Linked DNA regions of Homo sapiens. The protein of the gene in region 2 interacts with the protein of the main gene of each other region in a pairwise test. Each region holds a gene or a part of one and is shown on either strand. Other genes may lie near its edges. The genes, in order: TTC4, RXFP4 and QDPR.

Evidence for each region.
Region 1: the proteins of RXFP4 (region 2) and TTC4 interact in a two-hybrid assay, tested with the Homo sapiens proteins (one large-scale study listed by BioGRID and IntAct).
Region 3: the proteins of RXFP4 (region 2) and QDPR interact in a two-hybrid assay, tested with the Homo sapiens proteins (one large-scale study listed by BioGRID and IntAct).

What each region holds. Positions count from the first base shown.
Region 1 is NC_000001.11:54,729,361-54,732,860, reverse strand, and holds part of TTC4 (tetratricopeptide repeat protein 4), read right to left. Parts: intron 1,376-3,500; coding exon 1,161-1,375; intron 1-1,160.
Region 2 is NC_000001.11:155,940,170-155,943,815, reverse strand, and holds RXFP4 (relaxin-3 receptor 2), read right to left. Parts: upstream 2,179-3,646; 5' UTR 2,107-2,178; coding exon 982-2,106; 3' UTR 729-981; downstream 1-728. UniProt on the Homo sapiens protein: High affinity receptor for INSL5. Also acts as a receptor for RLN3/relaxin-3, as well as bradykinin and kallidin. Binding of the ligand inhibit cAMP accumulation.
Region 3 is NC_000004.12:17,505,429-17,509,156, forward strand, and holds part of QDPR (dihydropteridine reductase), read right to left. Parts: intron 1-3,728. UniProt on the Homo sapiens protein: Catalyzes the conversion of quinonoid dihydrobiopterin into tetrahydrobiopterin.

The DNA.
Region 1 (3,500 bases), about 100 Mb from region 2:
TCCTGTCTTGGCCTCCCAAAGTGTTGGGATTACAGGCATGAGCCACCATGCCCAGCTGACATAATTTTCTTTAAACAGCTTCAAGGTTAAAAACATTTCTGGTAGGGTGCAGTGGCTCATGCCTGTAAATCCCAGCACTTTGGGAGGCCGAGGTGGGAGGAACATTCGAGCCCAGGAGTTCAAGACAAGCCTGGGCAACATAGAGAGACTCTGTGTCTACCAAAGAATTAAAAAATTACCCAGATGTGGTGATGTTCACCTGTAGTCCCAGCTACTTGAGAGGCTGAGGCAGGAGGATCACCTGAGCCTGGGGGCTGGAGGCTGTGATGAACCATAATCATGCCACTGCACTCCAGCCTGGGCAACAGAGCGAGACTTGGTCTCCAAAAAAAAAAAAAAAATTACAAAAAAACTTTTCTTACACTCTTACACTTAGACTCATTCTACACATTAACCCTATGAAATCACAAGTTAAGTCTGATATATATACATATCTATCAAAGACATACATATATCTCTTTTTTATTTTTTTTTTTTTTTGAGACAGAGTCTTGCTTTGTCACCCAGGCTGGAGTGTAGTGGCATGATCTCGGCTCACTGCACCCTCCACCTCCCAGGTTCAAGTGATTCTCATGCCTCAGCCTCCTGAGTAGCTGATATTACAGATGCCCAGCTAATTTTTTGTATTTTTAGTAGAGACTGGGTTTCACCATGTTGGCCAGGCTGGTCTCGAACTCCTGGCCTCAAGTAATCTGCCTGACTCGGCCTCCCAAAGTGCTGGGATTACAGGCATAAGCCACAGCGCCCAGCCTCTATATTTTTTTTTCTAATTAATATTCACTTAAATTGCTATGCATGTATTACCTAAAATGACTTCCTATTTCACCAGTGATGTGTACCACTCTTTGGCAAACACAATACTGTGGTGTTGCATGTACTAGCCCAGTTAGTATGACGATGAGACTTTTGTCTGTCGTTGCAAACCTAGTTAGTCAAGGTTCAGTCAGCTACAGGATAGAGAGGTTATTATCAAACCAGATGGTGTGAAACCCTCTAAACCATTATCTTCCCTTCTCAACCAAAAATCCACTCGTCCCTCCTGCCACAAAAACAGAGACAGCATGCAAGCAAAAGCAGAGGGCTCCTGGGCAAGTCAGTACCTGGAGTCCTCATGAAAAGCAGAGATGAAGTCCGACTGGGCATACTCTGGGTACAGAAAGAGCACAGGCCAGCTCAGCCTGCCCTGGCCATCTAGACTCAGCCTGGCTCCATGGGGGTTCTCAGTGCTGAGTCCATCCAGGAAAAGCTCACCTAGACCTTCTGAGGCTGAATCTTCATCCTCACAGGCAGCTTCTGAGAGCCTGATATTCCTAGCCTGGGTTAAAGACAGAAACACACACACATAATGCACATCTTATTGTGTGGGAGGATGCAAACCCATTTTACTGAAATAAAGAAACCATAATGCCTGGCTAATTTTTTTATTTTTTATTTATTTTTATTTTTTGAAGAGACGGAGTTTCACTATATTGCCCAGGCTGCACGACTAACTTTATTTTTAATTTAATTTTCTTCATCTGTACCCTGAATGAACATGGACAACTAACTTTAATACATCAAAAAACAAACAAACAAAAAAAAACACCATAACAATGGGAGCTCCCTGAGGGACAGCTCTACACACAATCCATCTTCATTATCCCTGAGGCCTGGCACATAGTAGGTACCACTTAACTCACCTTCATTGGGCATCTATCTTGTGCTGGACCCTGTGTCACAGAGAACTAGACATGGCTACCTGCCCTCAAGCCTCTGCTCAATATCAAGTGGTGAGACAGCTATGGAAATAATGATGATATAAGGTAAGAAGTGGAGTTGTAGTACCATAGACGATGGAATAATTAATTCAGCCTTGGGGGCTGGAGGTGACTGAGATATGCTAGGCCTTGAACAATGACTTTGAAAAGCAGAGAAGTTGGAAGGGAGGGGCACTTAGAAGGGAGGAAGAGCCTTCCACTCCAACGAGCAGCAAGTGCAAAAGGACAGAAAAGATAAAAAAAAAAAAAAAGAAATGTCAAATATTTCAGTTTAGTTGGGACATGGAATACTAGAAAGAGTGTGCATTGACTTAATCTTGACTGTCTCCTAGACATGGGCATAAATTAAGGGTCTGAAATAGTAGGGTCACCTCTTATGTAAGTGTGCAGGGGTGCCTAAGGTTAGCACATGAGGGGAAATGACATGCAATCAAAATTAGATTTGATGATATCCCCTAAATTGGAGGTTAGCAAACTTTTTCTTAAAGCATTAGATATGAAATATTTTAAGAGTTCTGGACAATGGTCTCTGTCAAAATTAACTACTCAACTCTGCCACTGTAGTGTGAAAACAGCCATAAGTAGTACATAAACAAATAGGCAGGGCTGTGTTCCAACGGCTGCAGTTTGCTGACTCCTCCCTTTAACCATTAGTAAAATACAGCATGCATGGCTTCGTGTACTGTTGAGAGTAACTCTTATGTATGCTAAGTTTGAGATGAAGGGTTACACTAAAGAAGAGAACCAAAAAAAAAAAAAAAAAGGATTTATGCAAATGTCTGGGTGTCTGGGCATCTCATATTCTACAATTAAGAAAACGAACAAATCCCTCACTGTGAATGAGAATTAGATGGAAAATCTGGAGTATTCTAATCTGTTTAACGTGTTAATACATGTAAACAGATTGTTGTGGGGAGGGAATAGTGGAGTATGTTTTAGCAGTGTTAAGTTTCTTACAGTCAACAAGTAACATAAATGGTGCATAATTTAACTGAACAAATAATAAAACAAAAAACCTACCCCGGTTGGGCACCGTGGCTCACGCCTATAATCCCAGCACTATAGGAGGCCAAGGCAGGTGGATCGCCTGAGGTCAAGAGTTCAAGACCAGCCTGACCAATATGGTGAAACCCCGTCTCTACTAAAAATACAAAAATTAGCTGGGCATGGTGGTGTGCACCTGTAGTCCCAGCTACTCGGGAGGCTGAAGCAGAATTGCTTGAACCCAGGAAGTGGAGGCTGCAGTGAGCCGAGATTGCACCACTGCACTCCAGCCTGGGTGACAGAGAGACATTCCATCTCAAAAAAAAAAAAAACCTATCCCATAATCTCCCAGCAGATATTCTCTCCTTTGTTAAGACCAAACAATCTCAAACAGGTGACTCCCTAGGTATCAAGGTTAAAGCAAGATTTGGGTCAGACTATATATATTTCAAAATACAGAAAAGAGAAAGACAGGGTGGCATTTTGTTATTGTTGTTGTTGTTATAGGAACAACATCCTAAAATGTCAGACTTTCTCAGGATGCTGTACAACCCAGTGGTTAAGAGCAAGGACCCGGCTCTAACACATGTTAGCTGTGTAAGGTTTCTTCACCTCTCTGAAACTATTATCCAAAAAAACAGAAGCAAGACAACCTATTTCAGAAGGCCACTGTGAAGCTTAAATAACACTTAACCCAAA
Region 2 (3,646 bases):
ACAAGAATAATAGCTAACAGTATATTTCACTGTTAAATCTTTAGTAGCCCATTTTACAGTTGAGAACAGTGAGGTACAAAGAGGTAAAGTAATTTGCTGGAGGTAAAGCTGTGAATCCAGGTGCTCTGACACTCAAATTGATACTCTGGGCTTTGCATTTGGGGCAGGGAGGACTAGCACCACTTTCTGAGGTCTCTGCTTTTCTGGCTCTACCTGCAGCCTGTTCTCCCAGCCCCCTCCCCTCTTTAATCGCTCACCTCCCTTCACCCCACCCATGTCTTTGACTTGTCATTATCTTCACTTCTTTCAAATCCTGATTTAAAGGGAGACACACAGGCACTCCCGTCAGCACCAGGGTTTTACACCCAGGGCCTGGCAGGTGCTGGAAATTCCAGCAATACCCCACACCTGGCATCCCTTCAAGGGAACTACAGCTTTTGCAGCTGAGGCCTCTGCAGGCAGCAAGTTTCAGTGGTCACCACTGAGATGGTAAGGTGAGGACAGGGGAAGCTGGCATTTTTGGCCTTGATACCGGAGAAAGACAAGGGATACCCTGTTTTGAGGTGGGGGGTGGGTACAGAGAGAGATGGGCACTGACCTCTGATTCATTAGCCTAGAACCCTTAGGGAAGTTTTCCTAGGTATTCTTGCAGAAAGCAGAAATGGAGCAACGAATCCTTTTGTTCCATACTGAACTGGAGGTGGAACTGGGATAAAAGGTCAAGACAATTTGTGGATAATCCAGAGGTTTATTCTCAGATCCTCTTCTTTCCCATCTCCAAATAAAGACTTAAGCTTTGTCACATCCAGCTCTGATCTGAGCCCCCGCCTCCCCCATTCACCACACCCAGAGTTGGGGATCAAAGATCAGACTTTTCCCTGAGGGCACTGCAGCCTGGCAGAGAGGGCAGCTTCTCCCCAGGACTCAAGGATCCTACACTTGGTGGATCTCAGAAAGAGGAGTGTGTTCAGCTTGCGCCCTTCACCCGGGTGTCCCTCTGTCCAGGTTGGTGAGCAGGGTAGAAGGGCGGCTCTCCCGGGGGTTGCTTGCGACCCACCGCCTGCCTACCTGCTTTAGGGCCACCTGTTGCACCCAGCCTCCGCCCTGGGGCCACAGCCTCAACCGCAGATCCCTGAAGGTGCCTGCCAGAGCCTGCCGGGGCTCCCGCCTCAGGAGACAGTACAGCACAGGGTTGAGGCAGCTATTGCTGTGTGCCAAGCAAGTAGTGACAGGGAAGACATACGTCTGGATAGTATAGAAAGTACTGTTCCAGGGCACCAGGTCAAACTTCACCAGGACACCCCAGAGAGTGACCACATGGTTGGGAAACCAGCAGAGGAAGAAGGAAGCCACCAGGATGCGGACAGAGCGGGCCACGACCCTGCTGTCCTGCCGCCGCCGTTGCCGCCGCTGCAGGAAGGCCAGCAGCAGCAGGTAGCTGGTGGTGATGACGCCCAAGGGCACCATGAAAGCCAGCACCACCCTCTGCAGCTGGTAGGCCCCCAGCCAGTACCTGCTGGGGAAACGCAGCAGGCAAAGGCGCACACCACACACCTCACCCTCCACCCCGAAGACAGCTGTGGGCACCGTCACCAGGGCAGCCGCCGCCCACACTGCCAGGGTGGCTATTCGGGCCCAGAAGAGTGAGAGGTGGGTGCCTGGCCCCGCAGCCATGGCCACCACCCAGTAGCGAGCAACGCTCAGCGCTGTGATGAGGAAGATGCTGGCATAGACGTTGAGGACAGTGGCCGTCAGAACCATCTTGCAGAGGGCACCTCCGAAGGGCCAGTGAAAGTCCAGTGCCGACTCGGCTGCCCAAAAGGGGAGAGTGAGTGCCAGTCCCAGGTCCGCCAGAGCCAGGTTGAAGACGAAGGTGTCTGAAGGTGGGCCAGGGGCTCTCCGGGCACAGTTACTCAGTACCCACAGCACCGCCAAATTTCCCAGCAAGCCAATGGCCCCCACAAGCCCATAGGCCAGGGCAACCATGAGCCTCAGGGCTAGGAATTTGACAGGCATCGGAGCATCATCAGCACTCAGCACACTGCCTCCGGAGGCATTGGCCCAGAAGAATGTGGGTGGAGAGGCAGAAGTATTGAGTGTGGGCATCGCAGGGCATCAGAGATTGGTGGTGCTGAGAAGAGAGGTCTGCAAGTGTCTGCCAGACTGGCAGAGGCCACTGAAGGCTCTAGGAAGGAGGCTGTAGAATTAAGTGCTTCTCTGGGGCCTCTGGTGAGCCCTGGCCCACGCCCACACCTCAGAGGGAGGGGTGTGGAAAGGACAACCCACCACCTTCCTGTTGGTCAAGATTGGTGGTAGGTGGGGCAGGGCGAGGCACAGCCTGAATGCCAGGGTATATGTGCATGCGCCCGCCTGTAAGAGGGGCTCTAAATGGCAGAGAGGGAGGGGAGAAGGGAGAGTTACCCCGCTATGGAGGGCAGCCCCAAGCCTCCACCCCAGGGAGAGAGCTGGAGGTTCCCTGTCCCAGAGATGACAGGAACCAAACTAGAGCTGCCTCTGTTCCTAACAGTGCAGAGGCCTCCCTCCTCTGCAGAAAGTGTTCCCTTGGGGCCCAAAGCAAGGGGCCTGGGAGGTGGCATAGAGGCAGGGAATCAGCATGGGTGTCCAAGAGAGGAAAGAGCGGAGGCTGCGGAGTCCCAGACCTGCTGCTCACTAGCCGTGTGACTGGGAGAGTTACTTTACTCCCCTAAGCCTGTTTTCTTGCTTAAAATTTTCAGGTAAGTCTGCTTCACAGGAGTGGCATGATGCAATGAGAGAACACATGTGAAATAGCAATTTGTATGAATATTATTTCAAAGGAGAAGTTTGGGGTGTTTGTGGCAGAAGGGTACTGAGAGGCTATTACCATGCCCAGGGAACAGTGCCAACTAAAACAGGTTGGAATTCATCTCAGCAGCAGTGACCTTGAGGCTAAGAGCAGGGAGGGAAAAGAGAGAGGAAGTCACAGCTTCCTGTTTCCTCCCCACTGGGAACACTGGGCCTATGAGGGCCTGTGTGGACCTGGGCATGCCCTCAGTTCTGTTCCTGCTCCTGATAATTAAACATTCCTGCTAACCTCTATCGCCGCCTTTCCCCCCTTTCCTGCTCTAGTCTGTGGACAGAGCTCAGCGGTCCCCCTACTCTCTCCTGCAAACCCCATGTCAGAGCTAAGGATCCTGAGATACGCCCTCACCACACCTCATCCTGTCTCCCCATGATCTCAATCATAACTGGAAAAAAAAAATGCTTCATTGGGCCCTCCCCTTTCATTGCCTACATCTCTACCTACTGCAGAAGGAGCTGAGGTGGGGACAAAGAGAAGGCAGGAGGTGGATAGGTAAAAGAGTAAGGCTTTCTCAAGGATTCCAATATATTCAGCCCCTTCTTGCCCTCTGCCAGCTAATTAAGATAACGTTCGATGTTCAGTTCCTTTGGAGTGCTGAGGGAAGAGAGGGGCCCTTTGCGACAATAAATCAGCAGTGGGCTTGTGAACACATAGGAGAAACCCAGAGGTGAGAGTGATACAGGCTGGGTGCCAACATGTTGGGGCTTTCGAACCAGGGATGAGTATAAAGGGGGTGGCAGAAGGGGAGTGCCCAGCCCAAGGTCAGGTGAGCCCCACAGGCTACCTTCTGGCCTCATGGCTGCT
Region 3 (3,728 bases), on a different chromosome or scaffold from region 2:
TAGAGATGGGGTTTCGCCATGTTGGCCAGGCTTGTCTCGAACTCCTGACCTCAGGTGATTCGCCTGCCTCGGCCTCTCAGAGTGCTGGGACAACAGGACTGAGCTACCACGCCTGGCCCAATCTTCTTAAGATTTAAATCAGGCTGGGCACAGTGGCTCATGCCAGTAGTCCCAGCACTTTGGGAGGCAGAGGCAGAAGGATCACTTGAGCCCAGGAGTTCAAGACCAGCCCGGGCAACATAACAAGACCTCATCTCTACATTTAGTTTTTTTTAAAAAAGACTTAAATCAACACCCTGTGTCTCTCCCAGTAGGAACATTTCAGTTGATTACCTCTTTCCCCAGTTTCATGACAAAACTGAATGTTATGCTGTTTGTTCAGAAATTCTTAAGGTTGGGGGTATGGTGGAGAAGGTACTCCTCTTCCTTTGGTGGAGTAGTAGAAGAAGGAAGAGATTTTCAAAGAAAAGTTTATAAGCACAAACGCATCTCTCAATCTCTGTCTTAGAGATGCACTCTACTGCCAAGCCTTGGGTGGGGACAACCTCCACATTCAATCTACAGGGACATTAGAAACCTATAATTAATCAGAGCAGAAGAGACACTGAAGAGACACCAATTACAGAGACCCGCACCTGGCAGGGCTGCTGCTCTCCAAGCCCAGGAACCGCCCTTCCATTTAGTTTTGGCTTTTATTACTTTATTTTTTGTTTGTTTTTTAGAGAAGGTTGGGCTCTGTTGCCCAGATTGGAGTGCAGTGGCATGATCTCGGCTCATTGCAACCTCTGCCTTCCAGCCTCAAGCCACCCTCCCACCTCAGCCTCCCGAGTAGCTGGGACTACAGTTGTGTGCCACCACATTCAGCTAATTTTTGTATTTTTTTGTAGAGATGGGGTTTCGCCATGTTGCACAGGCTGGTCTTAAACTCCTGGGCTCAAGTGATCCTCCTGCCTCAGCCTCCTGAAGTGCTGGGACTACTGGCATGAGCCACTGCACCCAGCCATTTTGGCCTTTATTACTTTATTCACATGAAACTATTTTGCTTTAAGGCAGCTTAGCATAGCAGTTAAGAGAACAGCCGTCAGACCCCCACTGCCCATGTCCAAATAGTGGCTATGCAACCTTTTATCTGTTTGACCTTGGACAAATACCAGGGCCTTTCTGTGCCTCAGTTACCCCCATTTAAAAGGAGGATAAAATTAGAAGCTTTGTTTGGGGATGTAATGAAGACTACACGTGTTAATGAAAATAAAGCACTGAGAATGGTGCCTGGCAACTAACAATGATGCCATGTCAACTTTCACTATTAAATTCACTAAGGTCAATCTGTATGACTTAGGTATGGGAACATTGAGACCACAGTGAGAAAAATAAGAACAACAAAAATGAAGTGCTAAAATAAGTCATCTGGCTTTTACATTCCAATCTATGTCAAACTGACACTTTAGAAAGAGCAAATGAGTAGCAGAGTTGTGCTCACAGTTTTATGTTCAAAATGTATAGATTTATACATGTATATTTTGGAGAGACAGACTGGAAGGAAATATAAATAAATGATTAACTATATGGTAGAACTATAAATGATTTCCCTTTTCTTTTTGCTTATTTGTATTTTCTATATCATACATGCATCACTTCTAAAATTTTAAAAATTTGTTATAAAAACCAGATAAGGATCATAAAACATCAGTATTGAGATTACCAAGGAAAGTGCAACTAAATGAAAAGCAGACCCACGTACAGACCAAGTGGCACCTGAACTTATTAAAGTTCGTATCTGGAGACCTATGATCCTGACTCCACCACTGAGTAGCTTGTTGGCCTTGTCACTTAGTCGCGCAAACTTGTCTTCACAGCTGTAAAATGGCCTGCCTGCCTGCCACACTGAGTGGTTGGGAAAATAAGGCGCTTCACATAGTGATGTGAAGTTATCCTTGGGAATGTGGGCTACAGCACTAAAAACCATTAAACACAGAGTCAGCTGCGCACAGTGGCTACTCAGGAAGTCCCAGCTATTCGGGAGAATGAAGCAGAAGGATCCTTTGAGCCCAGGAGTTCCAGTCCAGCCTGGGCAACACAGTGAGAACCTGACTCAAAAGTCATCCAGGCAGCTCACCAGAAGGGCTTCTCAAGAAAGTTAAGCACTGCTTAAGAGCATCAAAGATTTTTCTTTCTTTTTTTTTTTTTTGTTTTGAGACAGAGTCTCACTCTGTCACCCAGGATGGAGTGCAGTGGCACAATCTTGGCTCACTGCAACCTCTGCCTCCCAGGTTCAAGTGATTCTCCTGCCTCAGCCTCCCGAGTAGCTGGGACTACAGGCGTGCACCACCACGCTCAGCTAATTTTTGTATTTTTAGTAGAGACGGGGTTTCACCATGTTGGCCAGGATGGTCTTGATCTCCTGACCTCGTGATCCGCCCATCTCAGCCTTCCAAAGTGCTGGGATTACAGGTGTCAGCCACTGCACCCAGCCTAGAGCATCTAAGATATTTATACCAGGATATCCATCAAACTGTTAATAGTGCATCCTTCTGGGAAATGATACTATGATGGGGAGAAAAGGGACAGTTTCACAGTTTATTTCTATATTTACGTAGTTTTGTTGGACTTTTGTTTTATAATATGCATATCATTTTATAATTAAAAATAACCTGTTTTGTTAGTGTTCCTGCTGTGAACTGGGTAACTCCACTTTTTAGAATGTATCCTAAATAATCAGATATGTGGGCCAGGTGCAGTGGCTCATTCCTATAATCCCATTACTTTGGGAGGCCAAGGTGGGTGGATAACTTGAGGTCAGAAGTTCGAGACCAGCCTGGCCAACATGGCAAAAACCTGTCTCTACTAAAAATACAAAAAAGTTAGCTGGGCATTGGGGTGCATGCCTGTAATCCCAGCTACTCAGGAGACTGAGGCACAAGAATTGTTTGAATCCGGGAGGCAGAGGTGGCAGTGAGCTGAGATTGTGCCACTGCACTCCAGTGTCAACAGTAGAGCAAGACTCTCTTAAAACAAAAAACAATAATAATCAGATATGTAGACAAAGACGTTCATCACAACATTCTTGACAATAGTAAAACAAAAATCCTGCAAAAAACTCAAATGTACAATAAACAAACTAAATAAATTGTGGCCATTCCATAAAATGGAATATCACACATCTACAAAGAGGTTTTTTCAGTAATCTGGAGAATTATTTAAGTATAAAAAAAAAAAAAAACAAAGCTTACCATAAACTATAAAATACAAAATTACCTAAACTTGTAAAAGGAGTAACATACAATATGCATAGAAAAAGACAATAGGCCAAAATGTTAACAGTGAACTAACTCAAAATGATTATATAATTTATCTTTGTATCATTTTTCACTTTTTCCAAATTTTCCTCAATGAACACAAATGGCTTTCCTAGTTAGAGAAACAACAGCTTTAAAAAAAAGGAAGAACAGGCCAGGCGCGGTGGCTCATGCCTGTAATCCGAGCACTTTGGGAGGCTAAGGCGGGCGGATCACAAGGTCAGGAGTTCAAGATCAGCCTGGCCAACATGGTGAAACCCCGTCTCTACTGAAAATACAAAAAATTAGCTGGGGGTGGTGGCAGGCACCTGTAATCCCAGCTACTCAGGAGGCTGAGGCAGGAGAATTGCTTCAACCCAGGAGGCAAAGGTTGCAGTGAACGGAGATCATGCCACTGCACTCCAGCCTGGGCGACAGAGCAAGACTCCGTCT